Regions from separate parts of the Homo sapiens genome. Here region 2 is linked to region 1. A link means that fine-mapping ties the variant in region 1 to the plasma level of a protein whose gene starts in the linked region. Region 1 holds a variant in brackets. A gene starts in the other region. All regions are shown on their reverse strands. Region 1 overlaps RORC (RAR related orphan receptor C). Region 2 holds the start of WFDC12 (WAP four-disulfide core domain 12).

Evidence for each region. PIP is the posterior inclusion probability: the model's chance that the variant is causal. The UK Biobank Pharma Proteomics Project read protein levels with antibody pairs (Olink). The fine-mapping took linkage between variants from a reference panel, not from the people measured, so its PIPs are less certain.
Region 2: it holds the start of WFDC12, and the variant in region 1 is fine-mapped to the plasma level of the WFDC12 protein (UK Biobank, PIP above 0.99).

What each region holds. Positions count from the first base shown.
Region 1 is chr1:151,815,149-151,830,291 of GRCh38, reverse strand. It overlaps RORC (RAR related orphan receptor C), which reads left to right. Exons shown (of 11, transcript NM_005060.4): 2 at 834-863; 3 at 13,012-13,097; 4 at 13,487-13,628; 5 at 14,867-15,143. Among named protein-coding and RNA genes, the nearest start is that of RORC, 9.1 kb to the left of the region's middle. RefSeq lists enhancers at 556-1,241, 4,503-5,438, 7,208-7,707, 7,708-8,209, 14,851-15,143. The variant A/G (reference allele first, on the strand shown) is at 10,445.
Region 2 is chr20:45,116,595-45,131,737 of GRCh38, reverse strand. It overlaps WFDC12 (WAP four-disulfide core domain 12), which reads left to right and starts at 7,273. Exons shown (of 3, transcript NM_080869.2): 1 at 7,273-7,369; 2 at 7,473-7,631; 3 at 7,795-8,313. The coding sequence starts at 7,291. The coding sequence ends at 7,892.

The sequences.
Region 1 (15,143 bases):
ATCGACCCACTCATGCTCCCTACTGCCCAATCTCCACCCAGACCCGGCCACGCAGCAGCAGCAGAGAAGGGAGGCCTTCCTCTTCAGGCTGGTAGGCCAGGGAAGCCTGGCCCGTGGAAGCCAGAGAGGGGTCTGTATTTGCAACTCTCCCCTCCTCTTCCTCCAAACATCCTCTCCCCCTACTCCCAACCCCCACATCTCTGAAGCCCTGGTGTTTTCAGGCATAGATAAGCAACCAAGAGATTTCAGTCCCACAGAGATTTAACTCTGGCTGTAGGATATTTCTTGTGCACCTCCAATGAAATTACAAAGTAAATAAGACCAACACAGTCCCTGCCTTCACAGGGCTTTACAATTTGGCAGGAAAGACCCATTTCATAGACAATGACACAATTACAGCAGTTAGGTGACAGTTGGTGACATGGTGAGTGCCAGGAAATAAAATGCAAGGAGCTAAATGTGTCAGCACAAGGGCAGGGGAAGGGGGTGTGTGTGGCTTCTCCAAGGAAGAAACATAATCAGAGACCTGAGGGAGAAAGAGAAGTTGGCTAGATTAAGGGGTACAGGAGGGACAGGCATTCTAGGCAAAGGAGCAGCTTGGGGGAGTCCCAGAGGCAGTGAGGAGCCTGACACTTCTGGGTACCTGGAAGAGGGCCAGTGTGGCCCAAGGGCAGAGGAGGAGAGAGGGGCACTGCAGGGGGTGGCCTGCCTGCCCTTCAGACGCCAGGCTCTGAGGGAAGGAGTGCGGCAGTGGGATCCTAGGAGTGGGGAAAGTGTCTCAGCCCCTCATGATCTTCAACCTTTGACGTCAACCCCCTCTCTTGTCTTTACAGAGCTGCTGGCTGCAAAGAAGACCCACACCTGTGAGTAGGGGGTCCGGGGCAAGAAAATGGCTGGGGCATAATGAGATGGAGAATAATTCAGCAAGTGATCTGTGGGGGGACTGAGGTTGGACAGAGGTGGAGGAGTCAGGAAGAGATGGCAGGCAACAGGAAAGCAAGGGGAGGTGCGAGGAAACCACAGATCAGGGCAGTGGGAGGAGATGAGGAAGAAGCCTGAAGCATGAAAGGAAACACTGTAAAGAAACCAGGAGAGAACAAAGGAAAAGGGAACCGCCTTGTGAAAAAAGGCGAGGAGAAATGCTGGACAGAGGCAGGGAGATGGGAGGGGGTGGGGCCGACTGCCAGGCCGGGGAAGGAAGGAGATAGAGGTAGGGGGGTGTGCGGAGGCGGGGTGGCCTCAGGAACTCAGGAACTCAGCGCTGCTGCCAAGGGAGACAGGGAGCCTGCACCAGGCTTTTTTTTTTTTTTTTTGAGACAGAGTCTCACACTGTCGCCTGGGCGGGAGTACGATGGCACAATCTCGGCTCACTGCAACCTCCACCTCCCAGGTTCAAGCGATTCTCCTGCCTCAGCCTCTCGAGTAGCTGGGACTACAGGCACCCACCACCACGCCTGGCTAATTTTTGTATTTTTAGTAGAGACGGGGTTTCACCATGTTGGTCAGGCTGGTCTCAGACTCTTGACCTTGTGATCCACCCCTCTCGGCCTCCCAAAGTGCTGAGATTACAGGCATGGGCCACTGTGCCCAGCCTGCACCAAGCTCTGTGGTCCTGAGCCAGGTTTGGTGTTCATCTCTGTGGTTAACACATCCTGAGGTGTGAACAAGCCTGGAGCCAGCCTGTGCAGGACTAGAGAGCAGGAGAGCTTTATCTCTGTAGGAAACAGAATGGACAGGGGCACTCTGTGTCCTGGGGCCCTGAAAGCCAGACTACAGCAGGTAAGAAGGGCACTAGAGCTCAGAGAGGACTTCCCAGTGGACGCTAGTGAATAAGAATCCTCTCTAGGGACCACTCAGCACATCAGCTCTCCTCTCCTAGTTTGTGGCAAAGGCTAGTCCCCCAGAGAATGCACACAGTCCCAAAGCTATGCCCATCAGGGCCATGCGTGCCCTTCTGTGAGCATGGGTCCCTGAATCGAGAGGATCCCTCCAGGGTAGGAGTGGCCACACCATTTCTCCATAGCCGTCCCTTGACTGCCTTGCCAGTTCCTCCTGAGAGCTCACTGCCATCTCGCCCAATGCCAAAATTGTCTAGAGCCTCCCTGTTCCAAGTAGAGACATCTCAGAGAGCAAAGCATTGCCCTTCTCCATGAGCTGGGCAGCCCAGGGCTGAGGGCCATCCAGGATGCTACCTCCTCCTGGGTGGGGGTTGCTTTGCTCAGCATAATCCTGATCAGTGTCTCGCCTGCCCCTAGCCACAGGGCCCCACGGAAATGCTGAGCAGGGCCCCGGGAGGAAAGCGGGTCAGGGAGTGACGCGGGTGAGCTGGGGGAGGGGGGTCACGGACCTTATGTGGGTGGGGGGAGTAGGGGGACTTTCGGAGCAGCAGGAACTGGGAGAGGTCAAACCCTATTCCTACCCTTAACCCCTGACCTCAGAAACCTCAGCCAGGACTATACCTCCTTATCCCTTTCCCATCCCACCAGTCCTCGTGTCCCCACCCCAAGAGTGTTGTCCTGAGGATCCAGGCTGACAGCCTCTCCCCCACTCCACGGCCCAGCTCCTGAAGCCCCAGGAAGGCCCAGGAAGGCAAGGAAAGGCCTGTGCCTGGATGAGAGGGTCTGGAGTCCCAGCAAGATCAGACACCTCTCAGGAGTTTGCCCCACAGAATCCAGGAGACATTAAGGCCTCCCCCAGGCCGAGAGACTCTGAAAATTGGCTCCTGAATTGAGACAACCCCAAGATGGGGGTCCAAGATGGGGAACCCGGGGGAACTCCCCAGACCAAGAGGGAGCCTGAATACTGAGGGGCCCTGAAGAGGGACTCTCAAAGCCAATGTACCCCACAAAGCACCTAAGAGGCTGAGAAGGTCTCTGGAATTGTTTGGCCCCTGAGAAGGACCCCCCTCCCCCAGGCCAAAAAACACTCCAGAGAGACTCACATACCGAGGGACCTCCCAGGCTGAGACACCCTCAAAAGCAGACTTGAACCAGAGAAACCCTCCCATCCTTCAAGTGGGATCCGAAGCCAGTCTGCCTGGGCTTGAATCCTGACTCTGCCACTTACTAGCTGTGTAACCTTGGGCAAGTTACTTAACCTCTCTGTGTCTCACTTTCCTCCTCGAAATGAGGATAATGGTAGCTACTTCATAAAGTTTTTTTATTTTTTCTTTTTGAGACAGAGTCTTACTCAGTTGCTCAGGCTGTAGTGCAGTGGCATTATCTCAGCTCACTGCAAACTCCGCCTCCCGGGTTCAAGCGATTCTCCTGCCTCAGCCCCCTGAGTAGCTGGGACTACAGGTGCTCGCCACCATGCCTGGCTAATTTTTGTATTTTTAGTAGAGATGGGGTTTCACCATGTTGGCCAGGCCGGTCTCGAACTCCTAACCTCAGGTGATCCACCCACCTTGGGCTCCCAAAGTGCTGGGATTACAGGCGTGAGCCACTGCCCCCGGCCCACATAAAGTATTTTGTGAGGATTAGATTATCCACATAAAACATCGAGAACCATTTCTGACACATAATAGTAAGCACTATTATTATGATTATGAGTATGATGATGGTGATGATGATCATTATCTACACTCCAATTTCAGCAGTTTGGCTCCTAAGGAAATTTCTGGTTTCCTTCTGTGGATTGTGGGTATTTGCCTGGTGATTATTACTGCTTCTATCATTTCCATGTATTCCCTAGCGCAAGATATATGTGGTGTCTGCAGGGAGGAGCGTGGGCATGGGAGTGGTGGGACAGCCCCCCAGGCTGCACCACACTGGGTATGGCTGTTGGCAGTCCACAGGGTGTCAGGTGGCACATGCCACCACCCCAGGCAGACATCCTGTGACTTACCTCTGAAAACATCCCTGTCCCTGAAGTCACCTGGCAAAGAGGGTCAGGCTTGGAAGGTCCTCGGGGGTAGGAGGAGTAGAAATTTGGCTTCAGGCTCGTGTGAGCTCCATTCTGGCTCCCCAGCCAGAACTACCCTGGCGGGTGGAAACAGCTTTTACCGCGTGTGGCTGTCGCATGTGGTTTTGGAATTTTCCAACGCCCCCTACGATTGGCTGCCCCTCCCCTCACACCCTGCCCCAGGCCCAGATTGGCCACGTGGGGCGCCTGTCATCCTACTCACTGCACCCCTTGGGGGTGGGGTGGGGGGTTGTCACTTGGCCACCTGTGTGGTGCAGAGCTTAAACCCCCCAGTCCAGAAGCACTGGGGGAGAGAGCTAGGTGCAGAGCTTCAGGCTGAGGCGCTGCTGAGAGGGCCTCGCCCCGCCTCTGCCGCCAGCTGCACCCCACTCCTGGACCACCCCCTGCTGAGAAGGACAGGGAGCCAAGGCCGGCAGAGCCAAGGCTCAGTCATGAGAAGTAAGTGAATGGGGCCACCTGGGGGCGGGGGAGCCTGGACCCTGTCGTCACCCCTCTGGAAAGGAGGATGTCTTGGGAACAGTGTGAGCAAATCTGAGCAAAGCAGGGTGCGTCCTGGTCAAGGTCAAGATCTGTTGGGAGATGGGTGGAGCAGCTGGGGAGTCCTGCTGGCCAGGCGGCTCCCTGACAGCAGCAATGGTAAGAGGACTGTTGAGGAATTCCTGAGTTCCAAAAAGAACCTCCAAAAGTATCTGAGGTATCCAGGCCCTTAATTTTACAAAAAGACTGAGAGCCAAGGAGGCCGCGTACTTGGCCCAATGTTACACAGCTGGTATCTGATGGGGGCTGGTAATTACTAGGGGCCCTGAACGCACTCTCCTGTTACAGTGTTTCCCTTGTTACGGTGTTTCCCTCTGTGCCTCCAGCCTGCTTGTGAGTAAAAGGAGGCCAGAGCAGTTGCTGTGCTCTGAAGCAACAGGACAGCGAGAGTCAACTGAGGTTGGCAGGCAGCAGGGCACAGAATCCCCGCGTCCAGGCCTCAAAGCCACCAGGCTTTCTGCCCAATCCAGGGACATGAGGACTATGTGGAATCCAGTCAGGGTGCACCCGGGCACATGCCTGCGTGTGTGTGCATGTGTGTGTGTGCGTGTGTGTGTGGGGTGTGTGTGTATGTGTGTGTGTGGTTCTCCAGGGTCAGTCACCCATTTGACCGGGGAAGCAAGGCAATGGAGATGGGATTGGAAAGACCTCGGCCTCACCCTTTTCCTGGCTTGGAGCCCTGGGCCAACAGTTGGTGGGCAGATGTCTGGGGTTCCTGTGCCTTCCAGCAGAGCAAGGGTGGGCAACCTCAGGAAGTCCCCTGTATTTGTTGTGAAGGGAAGCCAGGGAAGCCAGAGAAGCTCTCAGAGCACAAGGTGAAGGAGGAAAAGGGAAGCCCCATGCCCCTGTGGCTGAGGCCTGAAGCAGCCCCAGCTTCAACCTGGGGTCTTCCCACAAGCCACAGAAGGGAGGCCGTATTGAGTCCTGGAAAGACCCCTGGACTGACAGTGTAAGACCAGGCACTTGTGCCGCCTATCACTGGCTAGCCATATAGACTTAGACAAGCCAAGTCACTGGGCCCTGGTCTACCATCCGCAAAACAAGGGAGCTGAATTTTAAGATAGAACAACAAAACCAACTATGGAGAGTCTCCCATTCCAAAGGCCCAGGGCCAAGAGAGAGCCCAGTGCCCTAAGGCAGGCATCCCCAAGGGTGATGATGGAGACTCAGCTCTCCCAGAGGTTAGAAGGAAGGGAAACCAAGGAAAGAAAAGAATTCCACTTCTGTGACAGGGACTGAGGCCACAGTGCAGGCATATGAGCTGGGGTGGATAAGGAGGGCTGGAGAGAAGAGCCAACAGCTTCTACACAGAGGAAAGGGCCCCTTGGAGCTTCCGTTTCCCTTCTAGCTTCTCTCTATTAGCAGCAAACGCTGGCAGACTGGTCTTCCCAGAGATGGCCCCTAATGAGCAAATCAACCCTGGGATGAAATGACTAGGTGTGCTTCTAGCCCAGCAGCGGGGCAGGAGTCCCCAGGAGGGGCTGAGGGAGACACTTGGCCAGCTCTCCATTATTCCCACCCCCACCACACACACACAGCCCCACCCAGGCGGGGAAGTAGGAGAGAGGGCCTCCTCCAACGAGGGGGTCAGTGCCACTGGTCCTTCTCACTTGGACATTTACAGGTATCTCATAGCCCCAAGTTATCTGACCCCAATGAGTGCCAACCACCACCAGCCCCTCCAACCGCCGATGGCAAAAGTCAAAGCACATGGGGCTTGGGACTGTGACACACCCAGAGACCAAGGGCCCGACAAAAGGAGCAGAAACAAATCAAGAAATAAGGAGAGATGCAGAGGCCCAACTCAGAGGGCGAGTTTCTGGAACACCTAGGGAGAGAGTAATGTCCAGCTGGAGGTGTGGTTGGAGAAACACCAATAGAGCCAAACGCATGGAGGTGCAGCCGGGCGTGGTGGCTCATGCCTATAATCCCACTTCAGGAGGCTGAGGCTTGAGGCCAGGAGTTTGAGACCAGCCTGGGCAACAAAGTGAGCCGCTGTCCCTACAAAAAAAGTTTTTTTTAATTCGCTGGGCATGGTGGCGTGTACCTGTAGTCCCAGCTACTCAGGAGACTGAGGCAGGAGGATCGTTTGAGCCCAGGAGTTCAAGGCTGCAGTGAGCTATGATCAATGTCACAGCACCCTAGCTTAGGTGACAGAGCGAGACCCTGTCTCTTAAACAAACAAACAAACATGAAGGTGTGAAGCCCAGAAACAGAGCTGGAATGCAGAAGATCACAAGGCACATAGACACAGGGAGAGGCGGAGAGAAAAGATAACTGGCAGTAAAGGGAAGACAGGGAGACACAGGGTCTAGGCAAGCGGTAAGAGGGAAGTAGGGTGGCTCTGACAAGGATGGCACCAGCACCCTGCCATCCGACCTGCTGCTGTCAAGTGGAGATAATGTGTCTGTACGCCAAAGAGACTCCCAGCCAGCCAGACGGAGGGTAGCCCAGACATCTTCCCCTAAGGGCATGGCCAGCGTGGCGCCAATAGGCACTCAGGCCCTGGCATTTGGTCTGGATGGGGAGGTGGGAGGCCGAGGGGTGTGAGGTCACTGTCTATGAGCTGATCTTTCTTAGGTTTGGTCATGATCATGAGGAACAGTGGGCCAGAAAGGACTCCAAGTCCCCAGGGTACACAGATATCACCCTGAGAGCCCAGGGCCATCTTAGGACTCCGTGAAGGGCTTCTTCCTTCCTTTCATCACTCCAGCACCCTTCTCTTTCCCCGTCTTCCCATTCCTAACAGAAATACCAAACCACCGAGCCCAAGGTGCTAGACTCTGAAAAGACTCAGCTTGTCCCAGCACAATGAAAATATTCGGTCCCTACCAAGGGCTCCTCCCCATCCCCTGCCGCTGTGCTGCTGACTCAAACTAACAGGGAACAGGACTTTCCAAGGGCTAAGGTCTCTCCCAGGCGGGCAGCCCAAGGCCCGCGCTCCTGTTCCCATATAGCTAGTCCTTTCTGAAGTCTCACCTCCACGCCTGCTGCTGCAGTGCAGCCCCTTCCCTGGGGCTCTGAGGCTCAAAAAGGATGGAGATGTCTATTTCGGGGGAGGGACAGTAACAAGGCAGGGCCTCAGGGCCAGAGCCAAGGTCTTTCTGGGTCCACTACCCTCCTGGAGCAGTGAAGGTGCTCTGGGATGAGGGACAGATGGCCCTGAAGGCAGGGAAGGTGCTGATGGTGACGTCTGGGCTCCCACTCGCCAGAGCTTCCTCCTAGTGATTCATCCCCTCCCCCATTCACTGGTTGTTTTCACTCGCCTTTCTCCAGTCCCAGACTGTGGGGGTGGCGGAGGCACCAGGAGGGGGTTTCGGGTGGCTGGCTGGCTGTCATTCATGGCTTTTCAAAACCCCAGACTCTCCCTCGCCCACCTGAGTTTTAGCTTCACTATTTTCTCAGCCCCAGGATCTGGGTGTTTCAGCAGAAAATTCTCACCAGGAGCTGCGGTGAGGGCCCTGGCCTGGGCTGGGGGTAGTGTTCGCCAGGTAGAACCACTTCTCCCCCAGCCCCCACCCAGCCCTCCCGCTCCTGCTCCCCTGTGGTGGCACCCACCACCTTGGTTTCCAGCTTTGCAGAAGCTGGGGGAACTGAGAGCTGAGAAAGGAGGGAGGCTGGTGACAGGTTGGGGTGTGCAAGTGACCCCTGACCGGAGCTGTGGTCTCGGTGGGGATCGAGACAGAGAGTTCTGGCTGTGGGGAGAGGAGGAGCTCAAGCTAAGGAAAGAGATGCATTCCTCTTTCTCACTCATTCATTCATTCTGCAAAGGGAGGCATACCAAGATGTATGGAAACCTAGTCTATACCCTAAAGGGGCTGTGGTGTTCCTGAGGAGTCCCCGGGAACCCTGTTGTTGATATATAAGTCATCCCACTTGGCCTTAGAGAAAGGGGTAAGGGCAGGAGGAGGCTGGGACCTCAGAGGAAGAGTTGGGACAGAGGGAATAATATCTCTTGGGATCTTTATACAAACAGGAGTCCTGGCTTTAGTTCTGTGGGTTTCCTCTGTGAATTCTGTTCCTAGACCACCACAATCACCTCACACTTTTACCCCTACAGCCAAATAACCATGTCCTCTACCCAGGTCTCCGGTGTGCATTTGGGCGTCTTATCCTCATAAAGTATATAGCTTAAGGCTTGAGGGCACTGGCTGCAGAATTACAGAGATCTAGGTTCAAATGCCAGATCTGCCACTTCTGGCTGTGTGACCTTAGTCAAGCTGTTTATTCTCTCTAGGCCTCAGTTTTCTCATCTGTAAGATGAGGATGATACTAGCAGGGCCTATTTCACAGGGTGGTTGTGATCATTGAATGAAAATGCATGTAAAGCCTGGCACAGAGTAAGAATTCAGCCAATGCTTATGTCTATCATTATCCTTTCTCCTTAATCAGTATCCACTGGAGAAAAAGGAGAGAGAAAGAGGAGAGGAAAAGGCCCAGCTCTAGATTGACGAGGCACCAGGAGGAGATGAGGACCCCGGGGTTTCTCTGTGTGAACCCATTCTCTACCATGATGGTGGGGGGGTGGTGGTTCTGGGGTTTGAGAGGAGAGATCCCCCTGGGTTGCAGCCCCTCCCCTGCTCCTACCACTTCCTCTCTGTGGCATAGGGCACCTGGACAGGGCCCAGGGTTGGCTTCCTAAGCTGGCACAGGGCCAGGCTCTGGAAGTACTCAAAGCACTATCATTGAATCTCACAGCTGTGAGAGGCTCGATTAGAGGAGGATGGAGGACTTTGCCTCTACCGTATTTCCCCTCATAGGAGGAGCTACTAGGATGCTCCTGGGGGTACTTCAGTCTCTAAAGCAATTCAGAGGAGATTCAGTTTCTTTTTCTAGTATTGTCTCAGAATGAAGTCTTAGAGGTCACACTGGATGGCAGAAAAGATGCAAGAATGAGCTCAGGAAAAGATCGCCAACCCCAGCCCCACTCCCTGGAAGGAGCAGCCTGGCAAAAAGGCAGGAATAGGGACTAAGTTCTTGCTACTCAAAGTATAAGCTGAAGACCAGTAAGCTTAGGCACCAACTAAGAGCTGACCAAAGTGCAGAATCTTGAGTCCCACCTCAGATCCCCAGGTAATCTTGTTTGAGATGCAGAAAGCCATAGTCATTCAGTCATTAGATGACTTAAGGAGCTGGCGGGTGCATTTGGGCATTTGTCTCTCCTTTTGGAAGATGTGGAATTGGAGTTTTCTTTTGGAGAAAGCTCTCTCTCAGGAGAGAGCTACAGTGAGAGAGCTGCAGGTGAGATGCAAAGATCTTTCCAAGACAGCAGGCGAGGGTAGAGTTAGGGCTGCCATGGGAGCAGTGGTGCAGGGGCTGGTTCGAGGTTCCTGACCTTTGCTTGGCTCTAGTTCCTGGCACTGGCAGGCCCTTAGATGGTAAGTTCCTGGCAGGCCTGGCTCCAGGGCAACAGTTTGAGTAATCCTGTGATTACTCAGCTCCTTCTCCCCAATCTGAGTTCCCACCACCTGCTGCTTCAGGGACGTGTCTCCCAGGGGTAGCTTTTGAAGGTGAGTTATCATCAGAGGTGTTTTCAGCTCCTCTCACCAACCCCCAAGTCTACCAGCCCCCTTCCCGTTCTCCCCCACCCCTTCTCTACAAGTAACACACACCCTCATGTACACAGCACTGGTACTTTCTTTCTGAGGTTTGGGTGGATGGCATTGAAGGGAGTGCAGGTGGCAGGGGAAGGAGGGGGGAGCAGGACTAGAGGGCCTGAAGTGCTGAGGGGGCCATGGGTTGGGCAAAGGCCAGGATACAAGCGTGGATTTTCTGTGTTTCAGTGTTTCCGCAGCCGTCTCTCCATCCCTAGATCTATGTCTCTGTTTTTCCTGGACCCAAACCTCTTGGTCTCTCCAGCTCAGTGAGGCTAGGGGGTCTGACATTCTAGCTCAGAGTCTTTGGCCTTGTGTGTCTGTCTCACTGGGTACTTCTGTCTTGGACTGGGAGGATGGAGGATGGGCTGACCAGGTGGCTGGAGTCC[A/G]AGGCTTTGGTGTCGCCCAAACATGGGTATTTGCGAAGGGGGTCCTTGACTGGCCGCATCTTCCTATGAGAAGGTCAAGGTCTTGGTGACACTGTTGTGAGGTTCCTAGGGCCAGGAGAAGCAGTGGGTCAAGCATGGGGCAGGGAGATGTGTCTGGGGTCACCATGTGGTCAGCACACACACGCACGCGGATGTGGCTCTTGGAGAAGGGAAGAGGCAGGGAGGCCTGTGGTTGACTGCTGGGCCAGAGCCCGAGTTCCCACTGCGGCTTGGCCTAATCTCCCTCCCGCTTACTTTTTTGGGTGGCCCACGTTGGTTTCTCCCATCTCTGGTCTTAGGCCACTGAAAAGAGAGATGCCACAGTGTTGGAGGGGGAGGTGTTGGGCAAGAACAGAGTCCACAGGGCCCGAGTGCTCCTCTCAGCCTTGCCAGGCCCACTGGTCTTCTCAGCCTGACCTCTGCTCAGGAGTAACTTGAATACACAGTGCTTTCCATTGGTGATATCATTTCATTACTCTCTGTTACCTACAATCACCCCATGGACAGGCAATAATACTTTTATCCTGATCTTGCTGACAAGAAAACGTAGGTCTAGAGGGAGAATCTAAGTGACTAGAAGTATGGGGGCCCCAACGTTTTCTGCCCCTGTTCCAGACACCCAGTGCCCTCTTATTCTCTCTTCCCCTCCATGTATTAAAATCTGCTCTTAATTTACTGGAAAGAACCTGGAAAACTCACTTACCGCCTGGTCCTGGGGGGACCACAGCTTACAGTGTGAGCACTGGAAGCTTGCTGCTGGGCAGGCACGTGTGGCTGGGGGTTGGGTGAGGAATTGAGTGCTAATGAAGGGATTTCAGATACCCATGTGCCCTGTCCCCGTCAGGGTCAGCTACTGCCTCTGACTCACCTCAAGTCTGGCCTGAGGGATGATGGTTTAAGAATGATGGAAATAATATTTTGGGGAATGGCGGGCAAGCCATGGTCTCCCTGCCCACTTCACATCAACAGGCCCTACATGTGACCAGTGTCCAGGCCAGGGACTGGAGGTGAGATCACAGCAATGTGCATTCGCCCTCCAGAGAGGCTGCCACTTCTTTTGCCCCTTTGGTGGGAGACACGTCATAGATTAAAAGGGGCTTTGGCCCTTCTCTTCACTTTTCTGGCCTGTCCCGCCCCAGGGCTCCCCACTCAGAGGGGAGGCAGCAGGTCAGTGATGGTGGAAAAGAGACCCATGTGCTCTGGGAAATGCTAAAAACACCTACAGTAACCAGGGATCCCAAGCTTTGCCCAGCTACCTTTCAAGGAAGAGCTGGGAGAAGGCCTCCTGTGGTCCCATGAAGCTCAGCAGAGAGTCGTGGGCATTGACAGGAACAGGGCAAAGCAGAGATGAGCTTAGGGCCAGCAGCAAACCACAGGGGTAGGGAAGCAGGTACAGGTTACAGTGAGTTCAGTGGGAGAGAGAACCCGGGGTCCTAGTGCCCCATGAGCAGACACTAACATACAAATATGCACGTGTGGACGCAGGAGCAACCAGATATGTCGTAGGCTCACAAATGACACATACTTTTCTTGCATATGCACACCCACAAGCACACCTTCAAACATGCCCACTGAAATGTGTACCCGAAAAGACAGGTACACAGAACAGCATAATGGAAAGCTCAGGGGAACTGGGATGTAGATCCAGCTCTCAGGCAAACTAGCCTATGACCCTGGCCCAACCGCTTTGCCTCATCTGGCTTAGTCCTTCATCGGTAAATGAAGAGGTTGAATGAGATGGTCTCTAGTCTCAGCCATTTTTAACATTGATGATTCATGTTCACACAAATGGATACAGATGCCTTTGTACAAACATAAGTGTTCACACTCAGACACACGGATGTACACAAAGCCACCCTCTCTCTGCTCTGGGGCCAAGAGCCTAAGAGCCCTGGCTAATTCTTTCCCTAGGCTCTCAGGCATCCAGCAGAGCTGGGGTGTTGAGCCCCCGTTTCCTGGGTTCCTCCCTGCCACCCCCTCACCCTGTCTCTGTATAGCACCTCCCTGAGCCTTCACTGTCTGGCTGGGAAGGACTGGCATCTCTGCCTATCCCCCACCCCTTGTGTACCACATCTTCCTGCTATACCCTACACTTTGCCCATGGGAGCTGAGCCCCAGCGAGGGAGGGAGGCACAGAGGAAGCCCCTTCGGCGGGAAGCAGGTGTTGTGAGGCCGTGAGGAGTCCTATGTCCCAAGGCGGGAGGGAGGCAACTGGAGCTTTTCAACTCGAAGGGCTGAGCAGGTGGCCCCTCTGCAGCTGCTTTCTCTGCCTCCATAGCACTGATACAACTCCCGGCCACCCCTCCACACTCCCCTCCTCTGTGAAACAAACACAGCTTCCTCACACCCTTTGCTGAGAAGCATTTGGCATTTCACTTCCCCTTCCATTTTGCAAGAGGGAAACAGCAAGCTGGAGCTGGTTGGAGAAGTAGTGGAAGCACCAGGTACCTGTATCTGCAGCCCAGGTACATGGTGGTTGAATGCAGAAAAGCCTCCTGGGCTGACCTACTTCTCTTTCTCTCTTCCAGCACAAATTGAAGTGATCCCTTGCAAAATCTGTGGGGACAAGTCGTCTGGGATCCACTACGGGGTTATCACCTGTGAGGGGTGCAAGGTGAGTCATAGGCATGTGTATGCATGCATGTGTGCGTGTGCATACACAAGCGCGCGCGCGCGCACACACACACACACACACAGTGTCTCCTTAGAGATAAACAAGGGGGTTAATGGCCTTTGTTCTGACTCCAGGGATGATCTCCTGGGCAGCCAGGAAAATGCCTGAGTAGCGCCTTCCTGCAGGGCCCTCAACACTGGCAGGGCCCTGTCTTAAGCTGGGGAAATGACTACAGGATAAATTGCAATTACACAAATAGATGGAGGAGAGAGAAAACTGACAGGTCGTGGGATGTAGAAAAGCTGCCAGAGCTTGTGGGCTGGAGGCCTTTGTGAGTGAGCTGGGCCTGACCAGGATAAGCAGTCTTGCCCTCCACCTGCTTTCCCCAGGGCTTCTTCCGCCGGAGCCAGCGCTGTAACGCGGCCTACTCCTGCACCCGTCAGCAGAACTGCCCCATCGACCGCACCAGCCGAAACCGATGCCAGCACTGCCGCCTGCAGAAATGCCTGGCGCTGGGCATGTCCCGAGATGGTGAGGCCAAGTCGACAGCCCCCTGGGGTTTTCCTGGTGTCTCCAGAGGGGCAGCCTGGCCTGCTGAGCTAGACAAGGCTTAACCTGCAAGACGGCCCATCCTCTGGTCTCCTCTCCATTCCTCCCCGTTACAACCCCTTGTCTCCTCCCCTCCAGGGATGGATGGGTCACCCCCATCAAAGTTCTTTGGAGTCCCCAACTTTAGGCTTTGCTAGAACAAACATCCTCTTTCCAAGGTCCCATACCTCTTCATCTCTTCTTACTTGGAACGAATTCTCCTCACTCTGCTGCCCTCTGGCCCAGCTCCCATGCAGCTCTGGCACCTTCCCCTGCTACCCTGTTGTTGTAGTTCTAGCTCTATCTCCTTTTCTAATCCCCCATTCCCATACTTGGACACAGGACTATAGCCAGGAATGGAAACAGAATTGGCCTGAGAACAACCAGAGGGTGGTCGTGGGGGAGGGCTGGTGTTCCTGGTGCCTTATCCACCCTCCTCACCCACCACCTCCTCACCAGTCTCCCTGCACACCTCCACCACCACAGAAGGAGCCTAGGGTGGAGCTGGGGGGGCATGAGGTGATGAGGAGCCAGAAGGAGCCCGTCAGCACTTTTCAGTGCCCAAAATAACAAAGCAAAAGGAAGCACGCAGGGGTGCAAAGGGGCAGGCGGGGCGAGGGGCTGTGCCCCTACACCTGGGAGGGGTGGCGGGGGGAGTAAAAAGGCAGGAAAGAGAGAGCAGAAGAGGATGTTCAGAAACAAGCCGCGGAGCCCGGGTTGGGCTGTGGTGAGTATCTAGGTCACCAGGGAGCCTGCAGGCCTGACCACAGGGAGACCTGTGTTCTCAGCTCTCCTCTTCCTCCGACCCTCCCAAAGAGGCGAGGTGACCCCAATACAGCTTGAGGCCCTCTGCTCGACCACCCCCAGCCCCAAGATCTGGAGGCCAGAATCCCCAGCCTAGACTCATTGCTTGAATTCTGCCATGATTCAAATCTGATTTAGAACTTAGAAGATTTTGCTTAGCAGATTGAAATGGCAGACTGGACAGACCCCAGAAGCAAACAAGAGTGAGAGGTGGACGGGGTCTTGAGCATAAGTTCCCTAAAGGCTAGAGAAGCTGTGCTTGGAGTCAGCCATTCAGAGAGCAGCAAGTTAATCCTTTAATGACCAAATGCCTCCTGACCCTGCCCTGTGCCATGTTCTCCTGCCTCATAAACCCCTGGTCCCTGGACCTCTTTCAGCTGTCAAGTTCGGCCGCATGTCCAAGAAGCAGAGGGACAGCCTGCATGCAGAAGTGCAGAAACAGCTGCAGCAGCGGCAACAGCAGCAACAGGAACCAGTGGTCAAGACCCCTCCAGCAGGGGCCCAAGGAGCAGATACCCTCACCTACACCTTGGGGCTCCCAGACGGGCAGCTGCCCCTGGGCTCCTCGCCTGACCTGCCTGAGGCTTCTGCCTGTCCCCCTGGCCTCCTGAAAGCCTCAGGCTCTGGGCCCTCATATTCCAACAACTTGGCCAA
Region 2 (15,143 bases), not on the chromosome of region 1:
CAGCAAAGGGACCTGTATTTACAGAAGCCTTGAGATGGAATAGAATATGATAAAGTCAAACAGCAAACACTCAAGAACTAATATGTGTTTTATGTGATCATTCTGGAGAATGTGTGGTTTGTCAGTGGGAAGACGAGTTATCAAGTTATTTCTGTGACCCAGATAAGAAATACTGCAATAGCTTGGATTAGGACAGAGAGTCCCAACCTTGGCACTATTGACATTGGGGATGGACAATTTTTTTGTTGTGGGAGGCTGTCTGGTACGTTCTGGGATGTTTACCAACATCCTTGATCACTCCCATGTTTACTGCAGTATTATTCACAATGGCCAGGAGGTGGAAACAAACTAAAAGTTTATTGACAGGTGAATGCGGTAAAGAAAATGTGGTATTTACATATCATGGAATTTGAATAGCCAAAAAAGAGGGAAATCTTTTCATTATGCTACAACGTGGATGAACCTTGAAGACACTATGCTAAGCAAAATAAGCCAGTCACAGAAGGACAACTATTTCACAGTTCCACTTTTATAATCTTACGTGAGTTGTCTAAAGTAGTCAAACTTATTTAAGCAAAAAGTATGATGGTGGTTTCCAAGGGTTTCAGGAAGGGGGAAATGGGGGATTGTTGTTCAGTGGGTAAAGTTTCAGTTATGCAAGATGAAAAAGTTCTAGAGATCTGCTGTACAACATAGTGCCTAGAGTTAATATGGTACTACACACTTAAAAAGGTGTTACGAGGGTAGATCTCATGCTAAGTGTTCTTACCACAAGAAAATAATTTTTTTAAATCCAAATTTAAATTTTTCAGAAATTTAAGAAAATTATATAATACACAATTTAGAATACAAATGTAAGAACATTAATAATACATCAGAATGTTATTTAGAAACATGGAGATAAATATTAGAAACAGCTAGAAGAGCTAAAAGTGTTTACCTCTGGTATCAGGACCTCTGGGTATCAGGAATCAAGGTAAATAGGAGCAATGTAGGAGATTCCCATTGTAAACCTGGTTTTACACTTTACATTTTATACTGTGTACATATATTATTGTGATAATACTTTAAATAGAATTTCATATCTTTAAAACTAGGGAAAAAGTAGCTAAAGAATAGGCATAACTTCTTCCTGGTTGATCTTCCTTTAAGGAAGCATTTGCACCTTTGTCTGGCTCAGTGGAAGGTGGAGAAGGGGTTCAGATGATCATTTCCTGATTTTTAGGCATTAAATATTTTGGGATCCCACAATTTCTAACAAGGGCATTAATTCAGCTTATACTATTCAGTCAGGCACACTGTCAAGGCAAAGATTACTGTGATGTCACCTCTCATTAATATAAAGATATACACACACACAGACACACACACACACACACACACCCACGAGTCTCTCCTGCTGAAGCAAGTGCTTTAACAAGCAGAATATGTTCATACATGGTAGATAAATAAGGAATTAAATCACTAACATGTAAAATTGGGTTAATACAGTTTTTCATAAGGTGACTATGCCTTGTCCTGTCATATAAAACAAATCGAATGCAAAAATATTGAACATGGTATCTCTTGAGTGACACACAAAATAACAAACACTTCATCTCCTCCCTCTTATCTCAGTTTACCTATAGTCATTGCCCTACCAAGTGCGTGATGTGCTGTTATCCTGAGTTCTATCCTCTTCTTGATAGAAGTATTTAATACTGTGTTCAATGTCCTGGAAACAAGAATCTGAAACATGATTTTAAAAGAAATGCCTGAAGGCCAGGCATTGTGGCTCATGCCTGTATTCCCAGCACTTTGGGAGGCTGACGGGGGTGGATCACCTGAGATCAGGAGTTTGAGAGCAGACTAGCCAAGATGGTGAAACCCCATCTCTACTAAAAATACAAAAGTTAGCCAGCTTGTAGCCCCAGCTACTTGGGAGCTTGAGGCAGGAGAATCTCTTGAACCCAGGAAGCAGAGGTTGCAGTGAGCAGAGATTGCACCACTGCACTCCAGCCTGGGTGACAAAGGGAGACTCCATCTAAAAAAATAAATTAATAAAAATGTAAAAATAAATAAATAAAAGAAATGTCTTAAATACTGAGAAGTTTGAAATAATAAAATATTTTTGAATAAATGAGAGCATATGCTATTCACCACAGCAATAAGCTAAATGTTGCACTCCGTCAGAGATGAGACCGCTAGTGAGCCTAACACATCAGTTACTATCAGCTTCAAGTGATATTGATAAACAATTGTAGTGGATTAAAGGTCAAGTTTTTTTGTTTTGTTTTGTTTTTTGTTTTTTTGAGACAAAGTCTCGCTCTGTTGTCCAGGCTGGAGTGCAGTGGTGTGATCTCAGCTCGCTGCAACCTCTGCCTCCTGGATTCAAATGATTCTCATGCCTCAGCCTCCCAAGTAGCTGGGATTACAGGCATGTACTACCACACCCAGCTAATTTTTGTATTTTCAGTGGAGACAGTGTTTCACCATGTTGGCTGGCTTGTCTTGAACTCCTGACCTCAAGTGATCCGCCCGGCTTGGCCTCCCAAAGTTCTGGGAGTACAGGCGTGAGCCACCACGCCCAGCCAAAGATCAAGATTTTAATGTCAAGAGCATCAGCATAGAACTTTGCAGTTATCCAGTTTCATTTAGAGTTATACAGCTTCCTTACAAAAGGGAGGAACTGGCAAATCAACGAAGCGGATTGCTGTTTTAAGCCAGTACAGAAGTAAAAGATTGACGACAATGACCCTCCAGTATAACAACATTTAGTCCCAAGAATGATGATGTCCTTCATTCCACCTTTTGTACATACCTCAAAAGCCACAGTATTTCACCATACCCACTTACCAAGCAAACTCCCCATCTTTTGTCAAAGTAAAGTGCTACATTTACTACATAATTTCTTTATTAGGAACTGAAGATGTTTAACACTGTGGTCATGTTTTTATTGGGTGTGGGTTCTGTTTGTTTGATGTATTACTTATGAGACTGCACAAATATTGAATGTTCTACTTCAACTCTATTTTTTCCAGAAGCCCTATTATTTGTAGTGAGCAAAACTCTGTAACCTAATGATTTTCAGGAATATATATTCCACGTTTATGAGAAATATATCTTCCCTTTCATTCCCTGTCTTAGACTCCGCCATTTTGGTTCAAGGCTTTCCACTTTCTTGAAGCACATAAATAAATGATGCCCAAAAAAGACAATGAATGTGAAATCTGGTTAATGTAATTCACAAAATAACAGATTGAAGAGACAATCCATATATTTATTTCAATTGATGAAGAAAAGGCATTTGATAAAAATTCAACATCCTTTCATGAGAAAAACTCTTAGCTAACTAGAATTAAAAGGGAACTTTATTAACCTGATTCAGCAGAACATGGGATGAATTCCACAAGGTCACATGGCATGGGCTAAGGAATGCCTTTACTGGGTGAAACCAGTGAGCCAAGGATCAGCACTCCTAAGCATGGGATACTCCCAGCAGACACTCCCATCATTACTCGCTTCAGCCTACATTGAGGTGTTCTGAGGCCATGCACAGCTATTAGTCAGTGAGGCAGGACAGCAGCGTTTCTCAACATCAATACTATTGGCACTTGGAGACAGATCATTGTTTGTTGTGAAAAGCTGTCTTGTGCATTGTTAGATATTTAGCAGCAACCTCAGCCTCTAGACACTGGATGTGAGAAGCACATCTGTCCCAGTTGTGACAATCAAATATGTCTCCAGACATTGCCAAAGTCCCCTGGGGACAAAATAACCACCTTTTGAGAAGGTAGTTTACTACTACAAAACAGGAACATTGTCCCCTGCAATTTTACCTTCTTATAATATGAATATGAGAAGTTCCTTATGGGGCTTGCTTCCTAGACAGTCTAGGTTTCTAGGAAACCTAAATGTAAGCCTAAATGTATTTATATATATACATATATAAACATATTTTTGCTATGTATATATGTATATATATATGTAAACATATTTTTGCTATTGAGTTGCAGTTCTTTATATATTTTGAAAATTAACCCCTTATCTGGTAGGTAGTTTGCAAATATTTTTCCCATCTCACAGGTTGCCTTTATTACTAAATATTTTACATGTTATTGCTTTTAACGTATTACATTTTTCTAACCAATATTTCTAGTGTATAGAAAGCAGCTGACTTTTATATATTGATTTTTGTGTCAGCTAATCTTGAAAAATTGTCTAACTCATGATGTATCTGTAGTTTCTTTTGTGTTTTTATTATTGCATCATTTGCAAACAATGGCTTTTCTCGTCTCCCATTCTAATACTTATTTCTTTTCTTTTTCATTATATATATGTGTGTGTACATATGCATATATATATATATATACACACACATATAAATATAAAGACCCAATTAAAAGTGAATAAGACTTAAACAGACATTTCTCCAAAGAAGATATACAAATGGCCAACAGGTATGTGAAAAGATACTCAACATGTCTAATCATCAGGAAAATGAAAATCAAACCATAAGATCACCTCATACCTGTTAGGATGGCTTTTATTTTAAAAAGAAAAGAAAAAGAAAACAAGTACCGGTGAGAATGTGGAGAATTTGGAACCCTTGTGCACTGTCAGTGAGAATTTAAAGGAGTATAGCCACTACGGAAAACAGTATGGAAGTTCTTCAAAAAATTAAAAATAGAGCTATCACATGATCCAGCAATCCCCCTTCTGGGTATTTATCCAAAAGAATTTAAATCAGGATCCCAAAGAGATATTTGCACCTGCAAGTTCATTGCTGCAATATTCACAATAGCCAAGAAATGGAAACCTAAATGTGCATTGACCCATTGACAGATAAATGAGGGAAGGAAAAAGATTATATACATGTACATATATATGCATACCATGGAATATTATTCAGCCATAAAAAAGAAGAAAAGTCTATCTCATGCTACAACATGGGTGAACCTCAAGGACATTATGCTAAGCAAAATAAGCCAGTCACAAAAGGACAAATATGGCATAATTCCACTTTTATGAAGTGTCTAAAGTAGTCACTTATAGAAGCAGAAAACAGAATGGTGGTTCCAAGGGTCTGGGGGTGGGGGGAATAGGGAGTTGCTATTCAGTGGGTTTCAGTCATGCAAGATGAAAAAGTTCTAGAGACCTACTGTATGACACTGTGCCCACAATTAACAATACTGTTAGTATGCACTTAAAAATATGTTAAGAGGTCATGTCTTATAGTATATATTTCTTACCACAATTTTTTAAAAAAACACGGTGTTGAGCAAAGCATGCAAAATACAAAAGAATACTTAGGCCATAATTACGCTTACACGAAATTAAACAACACGTATCACTAAGCAAGCCATAGCAAGAGAGCAAAACTTTAAAGGAAAACATGAGGATGATTAACAGAAAGTTCAAGATAGTGGTTACCTCTGAAGTAGGGATGGTAATGTCCTATTCTAAATTGATAGGTTCATAGGTGTTTATTATTCTTTTTCAAAAGGTATAGAATGTTGATTACATTCTTTCATATGTAGGATTTATTTTACAATACTTTTTTTAAAGAAGTATCATCAACAGTCAATTACAAATGACATTTTGGGGAGAACCGGAGAAACAAATATGAACTGGCTATGAGATGACATGCAGAAACTATTAATTATCTTAGATATGATAATGGCTTTGTGATTATATTGAAGAATATCCTTATTCTTAGAATTTGCATGCTGATGTATTTAGGAAATAGGAACATAATGTATTCAATTTCATTTCAAATATTTCAACAAATGTAGCTATAGGTATTCTAAAATATCCCAAACTATTAATAATTGTTAAATCCAGTTGTAGGTATACAAGTATCATTGTTCTGTTATTTCAATTTTTCTGTATGTTTAAAAAGTTCATAATAAAAAGGTGGAGGAGGAAATAGCCAATACATTCCAACATTCTAGTATTTGTTTATGAACTTCCCAGATTCCATCCCTGGTATCCAAATGATCTGAGTCCAGTGATATGACTGGTGAGATTGTAACCAAAGATTCACCACCTAATAAGGAGTAGGCTCACTTCCAGGAATGGAGGTATCCTCCCTGCCTCCACTTAACCCCAACTCAGTCCCTTCCACACTTCAGGATGTGGAACACCCCAAACCCAAATCTTTGCATTACTCAGGGGTCCTGTTAGTAAATGACAGAAATCCAATTCAGACCAGCTTAGGCAGAAAGGTGAATGTATTGGGTGGTAACATAACCCTGGGTATGAGTGGGGCTGATCTCAGGAAAAAGTTTAGTGAAGGACTAGATATCCTCTAAATTACTCCCTGTCCATCTCTCATCTCTTTTTATCAGCATCTTAGATTTATCTTCTCAGAATTTCTCTCTCACCAGGGCCAGGACCAAATTTCTGGAGTTTCTGGGCTTATATCTGCAACTTTTCCAACAGGAAGGATTTTCCTCCCTTTAGTACTCATTCAAAGAAAGGACCCCAAAAGCCTGGTCACACACACACACACACACACACACACACACACACGCACACACGTCCATGTCTTCTTCCAAATCCAGGAATTTGGGGGATGCAGGGGCAGAGGAGGGAAAACAAATCCTATGAAGATGATACAGTATAATTATTATGCTCATTGTATGAATGAGGAAACGGAGGCTTAGAAAGGTGAAGCTGCTTTCAAAGTCACACAGCTGGTGACAGGTCCAAAATCTGCTTTCCTCCAGGCCACATGAGATTGGCGGGGGGCAGGAGCACACGGTGCTGGAGCGCAAGGCTGAGAGTGAATGTTCAGGACAGACATTTTAAGCACTGCCATTCAGATTCTTCCTTGGGGTGAGGTGAGAACTGAGAACAAGTCCGGGGCAGCACAGGAAGGAGGGAAGATTTTGGTCCCAGGTGAATCAGGCATGAAGAGGGACTGATAGAGAACACGGTGGAGTTGAGGAAGTCTGGCCCTGCCACTGCCTCGTGTGTGAACTTGAGTAATTTCATGCCCTTTCTGTGCTTCTTTTCCTCCTTCCATAAGATAGTTTGGCCCTGGTGGCGCCTAATGGTCAATCACGTGTCCATTTCTTCTCCTCGTGTGAAGAACGAGGGTCGCTCTTGGATTTCTTCATCTATTCCAGTGCAGAGCCTTAGGGAAAGCCCCAAGTCCCTCCTCAGAAGGGGCCATTTCCAAATAGAGCTGGGAAGTGCAGCCTCCCTTGCCATTTTGAGCCTTCAGCTCCACCCACTGGCATGCCCAGCAGGAACACTATAAAGCCAGGCTCAGCCCAGCTCCCAGCCAAGCACCTGCCTGGCAACATGGGGTCCAGCAGCTTCTTGGTCCTCATGGTGTCTCTCGTTCTTGTGACCCTGGTGGCTGTGGAAGGAGTTAAAGAGGGTGAGCAGACATGGTGGAGCTGGGTGGGGCTGGGCTGGGGAGAGGTCCTGAGGGGCCCTCTGGGGCTGGAGTTCTCATATCACCTTGTGGCTTCCTCCACTAGGTATAGAGAAAGCAGGGGTTTGCCCAGCTGACAACGTACGCTGCTTCAAGTCCGATCCTCCCCAGTGTCACACAGACCAGGACTGTCTGGGGGAAAGGAAGTGTTGTTACCTGCACTGTGGCTTCAAGTGTGTGATTCCTGTGAAGGAACTGGAAGAAGGTAAGGAGACCTGCCTCCCAGGGCTGGGGCTGTCCCTTCCCTGCCTCTATCTGACCCATGAAAGTTCGGAGGAATTAGTCCCTTTAGCTGGTGTGGGGAGGGATGGCTAAAGCTGGCAGGGCCCTCAGAGACCACCTAGTCTGAACATCTCCATTGTCCAAAGGAGGAAACAAGGATGAAGATGTGTCAAGGCCATACCCTGAGCCAGGATGGGAGGCCAAGTGTCCAGGCTCCTCCTCTACCAGGTGTCCTCAGAAATGATGCTGGGTCCTTTCTACCTCTGGGGGTCACTCTCACTTGGCACCTGCCCCTGAGGGTCCTGAGACTTGGAATATGGAAGAAGCAATACCCAACCCCACCAAAGAAAACCTGAGCTTGAAGTCCTTTTCCCCAAAAAGAGGGAAGAGTCACAAAAAGTCCAGACCCCAGGGACGGTACTTTCCCTCTCTACCTGGTGCTCCTCCCTAATGCTCATGAATGGACCCCTCATGAATGAAACCAGTGCCCTTATAAGAGACCCCAAAGAGCTGCCTTGCCCTTCTGCAATGTGTGATCACAGCTAGAAGGCACTGTCAGAGAAGAGAAACTGGTCCTCACCAGATGCTGAATCTGCTGGTGCCTTGATCTTGGACTTCCCAGCCTCTAGAACTGTAAGAAATAAATATTTGCTGTTTATAATCCACCCAGTCTATGGTAATTTGTTATAGCAGCCCAAACCTGCTAAGACAACCTAATAGTAAAAAAAAAAAATCCTATTCAACATTATCAAAGTGAATAAAATATAAAATACCTACAAATAAATCTAGAGATGTACAGAAATTTTCTGAAAGGAAACCCTAAAACTTTATTAAATGACATTTTAAAAGATCTGGATAAATAGACTAAACTTTTCTACAGAATAAATAAATAAATGTTTTTTAAAAGATATGCTCTTCCCCAAGCAGGAAGCCTCCTCAAAGTGTTCACCTTGGTCAGCATAATTTATACCTGAAATATAATTAAAATTAAAACCCACTGGGTTTTGCAAACCCTAATGAAATAATTGATTCTGGCAATGATTATCCATGGCTTCTGAATATTTACAGGGTGCCATTTCATCACCCTGTGGTATATTTACAGTTTGTAAGAGGGAAAACACAAGTTTACAACTTGAGGATTCAGGTACACACCGAAAACACATTAATCTGTCTCCACAATGCTAAAAATGGGTAAAGCGGACCTCCGTTCCTCCTGAGGTGATGCAACACAAAACACACAGCATCATTCAAGAAGGGCTCCTGCCAAGACAGTTGAGCATGAACCTCACCAAGCCTCTACAGCTAGCATTCATCTATGGGAAATGTGAAGGACAAAGAAGATGAAAGACATCACAGGGAAGCAACATGGGACATTCTAAAGAACAATTTGTCTGTTTTGTTCAACAAGTCAATAGCATGAAGAAGAAGAAGGAGGGAGGAAAGGAGAATAAAAAAGAGTTGGAGAGATTGTTCTAGATTAAAAGAAACTTCAGATACATTACAGCCAATGCAATATGTGCACCAACAACCATAGAGTCACTTTTGAGACAATAAGAAAAACAAGATGCAAATAGAATATTAGATGATGTTAAGAAACTGCAGTTAATTTTCTTAGGTGTAACAGTAGGATTGTCATTATGTGAGAAAGTGTCCTTAGTTTTTAGAGATGCACACTGAAGTATTTAAAGGTAAAGTATAAGATCGGTTGGATTTACTTTAAAATACTTCAGCCAAAAAAGGGGTGGGGATATGCATGAAGGAATTCTTGTAAAATGGTTCATTGTTGAATCTGGATGATGGGTATGTAGGCTCCATAAAAGTATTTGCTGTTCTTTTGTGCATTTTTGAAAACATTTTATGATAAAAACAAGGGTTTGTTTTTGCAACTTAACAAAATGATCATTAGGTTCACATGGAACAATAAAATACTTGTAACCTGGAAAATTGAAAATGTAGACTAATGAAGGGTAATGGATACCACCAGTCACTAAAACATATTATGGAGCTACAACAATTACAGCCACAATACAAGCATACCTTGTTTTATTGTGCTTTGCAGTCATTGCATTTTTTACAAATTGAAGGTTTGTGGCAACCCTGCACCAAGCAAGTACATTGGCTGCATGTTTCCTATAGCATGTGCTCACTATGTGTCTTTGTGTCACATTTTGGTAATATTCACAATATTTCAATTTTTTTCATTATCATTACATCTGTTATGTTGGTCTGTGATCAGTGATCTTTGATGATACTTTCCTAATTGTCTCAGGGTGCCATAAACTGTGCCCACATAAGACAGTGAATTTGATCGATAAATGTCACATATGTTCTGATTTCTCCCCCAACCGGCCATTCTCTGTTTCTCTCCCTTGGAACACAACAATGCTGAAATGAGGCCAATTAATCATCTTACAGTGGCCTTTAAGTGTTTAAGTGAAAAGAAGAGTCATGTCTCTCACTTTAAATCAAAAAAAGCTAGAAATGATTAACCTTAGTGAGGAAGGCATGTTTGAAAACCAAGAAAGGTCCAAAGCTAGGCCTCTTTTACCAGTTAGCCAAGTTATGAATGCAAAGGAAAAGTTATTGAAGGCAATTAAAACAGCTACTCCAGCAAACACACAAATGGTAAGTGAAACAGACTTATTGTTAATATGGAGAAAATGTTAGTGGTTTGGATAAAAAAATCAAAACAGCCACAGCATCCCCTTAGCCAAAGCCTAATCCAGAGCAAGGCCCTAACTTTTTTCAATTCTATGAAAGCTGAGAGGTGAGGAAGCTGCGTAAGAAAAGTTTGAAGATAGCAGAGGTCGGTTCACAAGATTTAAGGAAAGAAGCCATCTCCATAACATAAAAGTGTAAAGTAAAGCAGCAAGTGCTGATGGAGAAGCTGCAGCAAGTTCTCCAGAAGATCTACACAAGATAATTGAGGAAGGTGGCTACGCTACACAACAGATTTTCAATGTAGATGAAACAGTCTTTTATCGAAAGAAGAGGCCATTTAGGAATTTCATAGCTAGAGAGAAGTCAATGCTTGGCTTCAAAGCTTCAAAGGACAGGCTGACTCTCTTATTAGGGACTAGTGTATTTGGTGACTTTAAGTTAAAGCCAATGCTCATTTACTATTCCAAAAATCCTAGAGCCTTTAGGAATTATGCTAAATCTATTCTGCCTGTGCTCTATAAGTGGAACAACACAGCCTGGATGACAGCACATCCATTTACGGCATAGTTTACTGAATATTTTAAGCCCACCGTTAAGACCTACTGCTCACAAAAAAAAACAATTTCTACTTTCCTTTTGTAATATTTCTACTTATTGACAATGCATTTGATAGCCCAAGAGCTCTGACAGAGATGTACAAGACAATTAATATTTTCATGCCTGCTAACACAACATCTATTCTGCAAATCAAGGAGTAGTTTTAACTTTCAAGTTTTATTATTTAAGAAATACATCTCATAAGGCTATACATTATTTAAGAAATACATCTCATAGCTGCCACAGATGGTGATTCTTCTGATGGATCTGGGCAAAGTAAACTGAAAACCTTCTGGAAAGGGCTCACAGTCTAACTGCTATTAAGAACATTCATGATTCATGGGAGTAGGTCAAAATATCAACATGAATAGGAGTATGGAAGAAGTTGATTTCAACCCTCATGAATGACTTTGAGGGGTTCAAGACTTCAGTTGAGGAAGTCGTCACTGCAGATGTGGTGGAAATAGCAAAAGAACTAGAATTAAAGTGGAGCCTGAAGATGTGACTGAATTGCTACAATCTTATGATAAAACTTGAATGGATGAGGTGTTGCCTCTTACGGATGGGCAAAGAAAGTAGTTTTGAGAGATAGAATCTACCCCTAGTAAAGATGCTGTGAACATTGCTGAAATGACAAAACCAAGAATTTAAAGTATTATGTAAACTTAGTCGATAACACAGCAGGGTTTGAGAGAATTGATTCCAACTGTTTGTTGTTGTTGTTGTTTTCAGAGACAGGGTCTTGCTCTGTTGCCCAGACTGGAGTGCAGTGGCATGATCACAGCTTACTGTAACCTTGAACTCTTGAGCTCAAACAATCCTCTTACCTCAGCCTTCCGAGGGGGTAGGATATAGGCATGCACCACCATCCAGCTAATTTTTTAATTTTTTGTAAAGGTAGAGCCTCACTGTATTGCCCAGGCTGGTCTCAAACTCTTGGGCTCAAGTGATACTCCTGCCTTGGCTTCCCAAAGCTCTGGGATTATAGGCATGAGCCACTGCACCATGCCATGACTCTGATTTTGAAAGAGGATGTACAGTGTATAAAATATTATCAAACAGCATTGCATGTTTGATAGTATTTCACAATATGTGACAGAGAAATCTTTCACAATATACCTTTGTATCACACCTGCACATGTACCCCCTAATTCTAAAATGAAAGTTGAAAAAAAGGAAGAGTCCATGGATGCAGCAAACTTCATAGTTGTCTGATTTTTTAAAATTGCCACAGTCAACCTATCCTTCAGAAACCACTACCCTGATCATTCAGCAGCCTCAACATCAAGGTAAGACCCTCCGCCAGCAGAAAGATGATGATGACTCACTGAAGGCTTACATGATTATTAGCATATTTTAGCAATAAAGTATTTTTAAATTAAGGTACATACTTATTTTAGACAAATGCTATTTTGCACTTAATAGACTACACTATAGTGCAAACATAACTTTTAGATACACTGGGAAACCAAAAAATCCACATGGCTCACTTTAATCCCAGCATTTTGGGAGGCCAAGGTGGGAGAATCACTTGAGTCCAGGAGTTAGAGACCAGCCTGGGCAACATAGGAAGGCCCCCGCCCCCCGCATCTCTACAAAAAATAAAAACTAACCAAATATTATTGCAATATTCTCTTTATTTCAGTGGTCAGGAACTGAACCCACAATACATGCTTGTCTGTGCTGGCATAAGAATAAACAGTCAAAAGAAAAGAACGGGCAAGGCACGGTGGCTCACGTCTGTAATCCCAGCACTTTGTGAGGCTGAAGCGGGCAGATCACAAGGTCAGGAGATTGAGAGGAGCTTGACCAACATGGTGAAACCCTGTCTCTACTAAAAATACAAAAATTAGCTGGGTGTAGTGGCATGTGCCTGTAATCCCAGCTACTCAGGAGGCTGAGGCAGGAGAATTGCTTGAACCCGAGAGGTGGAGGTTGCAGTGAGTCAAGATCATGCCACTGCACTCCAACCTGGGTGACAGAGCGAGACTCCATCTCAAAAAAAAAAAAGGAAAAGAAAAAAAATGAAAACCCATAAACAGCCCCTGTTACAATAAGACTTAAGTTATTGATAAAGTTTTAATTCTTAATCAATGGCAAAAGTTTAAATTATTCACTAAATGATCATAGGACAATTGCTTAATTACTTACAAAAAAAAGATATTTCCTATTTCACGCTCTATACCAAGATAAACTTCAGCTAGATTAAAGAATTATCATGTCTTTCAAAAATCACAAAATAATAACAAGTAAATATAGTGAATATTTATCTAACATCAGAGTCAAAAAGCCTTTTTAGCATAAAAATAAAAGGAGAAAATATGAATGAAAAGATTGAATTGATTACCCCAAAATTTAATCCTTTGGTACTAAGCAAAAATGAGGAAAGAAATATTTGCAATATAGCATCAAAGCATTTATCAAGTTTATCTCATTCAGTTCTCAGAACCATCCTATAACACGTATATGATTATCTCTATCTCTACTGGTATACAAAAATAAACAGGGGTTTTACAAAATTAATGTCAAACAGATAGAGCCTATGGCACCAAGATTCAAAACTAGGTCTGCCTAACTCCAATATACATCTGTTCACTACTGCCCCTTGTGTATGACAGGTTAATAGATTCTTAATATATAAACAGCTCTTAAAACTCAAAAATAAAAGGACCCCCAATAAAAATGAGCAAAATACAAAAACAGGCAATTCACAGAGAAAGGATACAGTCAGTATGCGAATATGAAGAAATGCTCACCATCATGGGTATTAAGAGGAAGAGGAAGACAAATTAAAATGAAATATTGTTTTCCGTTAGCAAAGATTTTATTTACTTATTTTTTTAATATCCTGTATGTAGTAAGAATATCCACTAAGGATCTTTGGCTGTGAGCAACAGCATCTGAGCTTTGGACTGTTCTGTTTAGAGAACTGGCTTATCTGTTCAAGACTCTAATGAAGGCGTGGGCAAGTTAGGGGTGGAGAAGAGTGCAGTGGGTGTAACCTGGATCCAGTGCCCTCAGCTTTGATAGGAGAAGTACCTGCTGATTGGCAACCAACCAGAATGACAGCAGTCAGGAGGCAATGGTTCCACCAAAGGAAGAGACGCTGGGCAGACGAAACAATAGAGGTCTATGGCAGGGCAGGTGGAGGCTCTTGTACACTCACTTACTTCCTTTCTGAAATTTAATTTGACCAGATATATCCAACGCCTGGAAACATGACTGTGCCTTTTGACCTAGCATTTCTAACTTTGACAAATTTACTTTAAGAAAACAGTCAGAGATGTGACTCCAAAATGTACACAAAAAGATGGTTATCACAGCTTTATTTATGAAAGTGGAAAATTGGAAACCTCCATGTTTCATAATAGGATACTGATTGTGTATATTTTGGCATATCTTTTTTCCCTAAAAACTTTACTGAAGTGATGTTTTGACATATAGATCTAACAAAACAGCATGTAGCCATCAGAAAACATGATGTTTAGAGAACATTTCACAGCACAGGAAAATGTCTACAAAATAATTTTAATTTAAAAAGCATTGGCATGGTGGCTCATGCCTGTAATCCCAACACTTTGGGAGGCCGAGGCGGGTGGATCACCTGAATTCAGGAGTTTAAGACCAGCCTGACCAACATGGTGAAACCCCGTCTCTACTAAAAATACAAAAAATTAGCCAGGCATGGTGGCGGGCGCCTGTGGTCCCAGCTACTTGGGAGGCTGAGGCAGAGAATTGCTAGAACCCAGGAGACGGAGGTTGCAATGAGCAGAGATTGCCCCATTGCACTCCAGCCTGGATGACAGAGGAAGACTCCGTCTCAAAAAAAAAAAAAAAAAAAAAAAAAAGAGCATTTCATGGCTGAGCACAGTGGCTCACCCCTGGAATCCCAGCACTTTGGGAGGCCAAGGTGGGAGAATCACTTGAGTCCTAGAGTTAGAGACCAGCCTAGGCAACATAGGAAGACCCCCCATCTCTACAAAAAATAAAAACTAGCCAAATATTGGGGCGCATGCCTATAGTCCCAGGTACTCAGGAGGCTGAGGCAGGAGGACTACTTGGGTCCATGAGGTCAAGGGTTCAGTGAGCCATGATGGCACTGTGCACTCCAGCCTGGGTGACATAGCGACATTCTGTCAAAGACAGAGAGAGAAAGAGAAAGAGAGAGAGGAAAGAAGAAGGAGAAGGAGAGAAAGAAAGAAAGAAAGAAAGAAAGAAGGAGAAAGGAAAGAAAGAG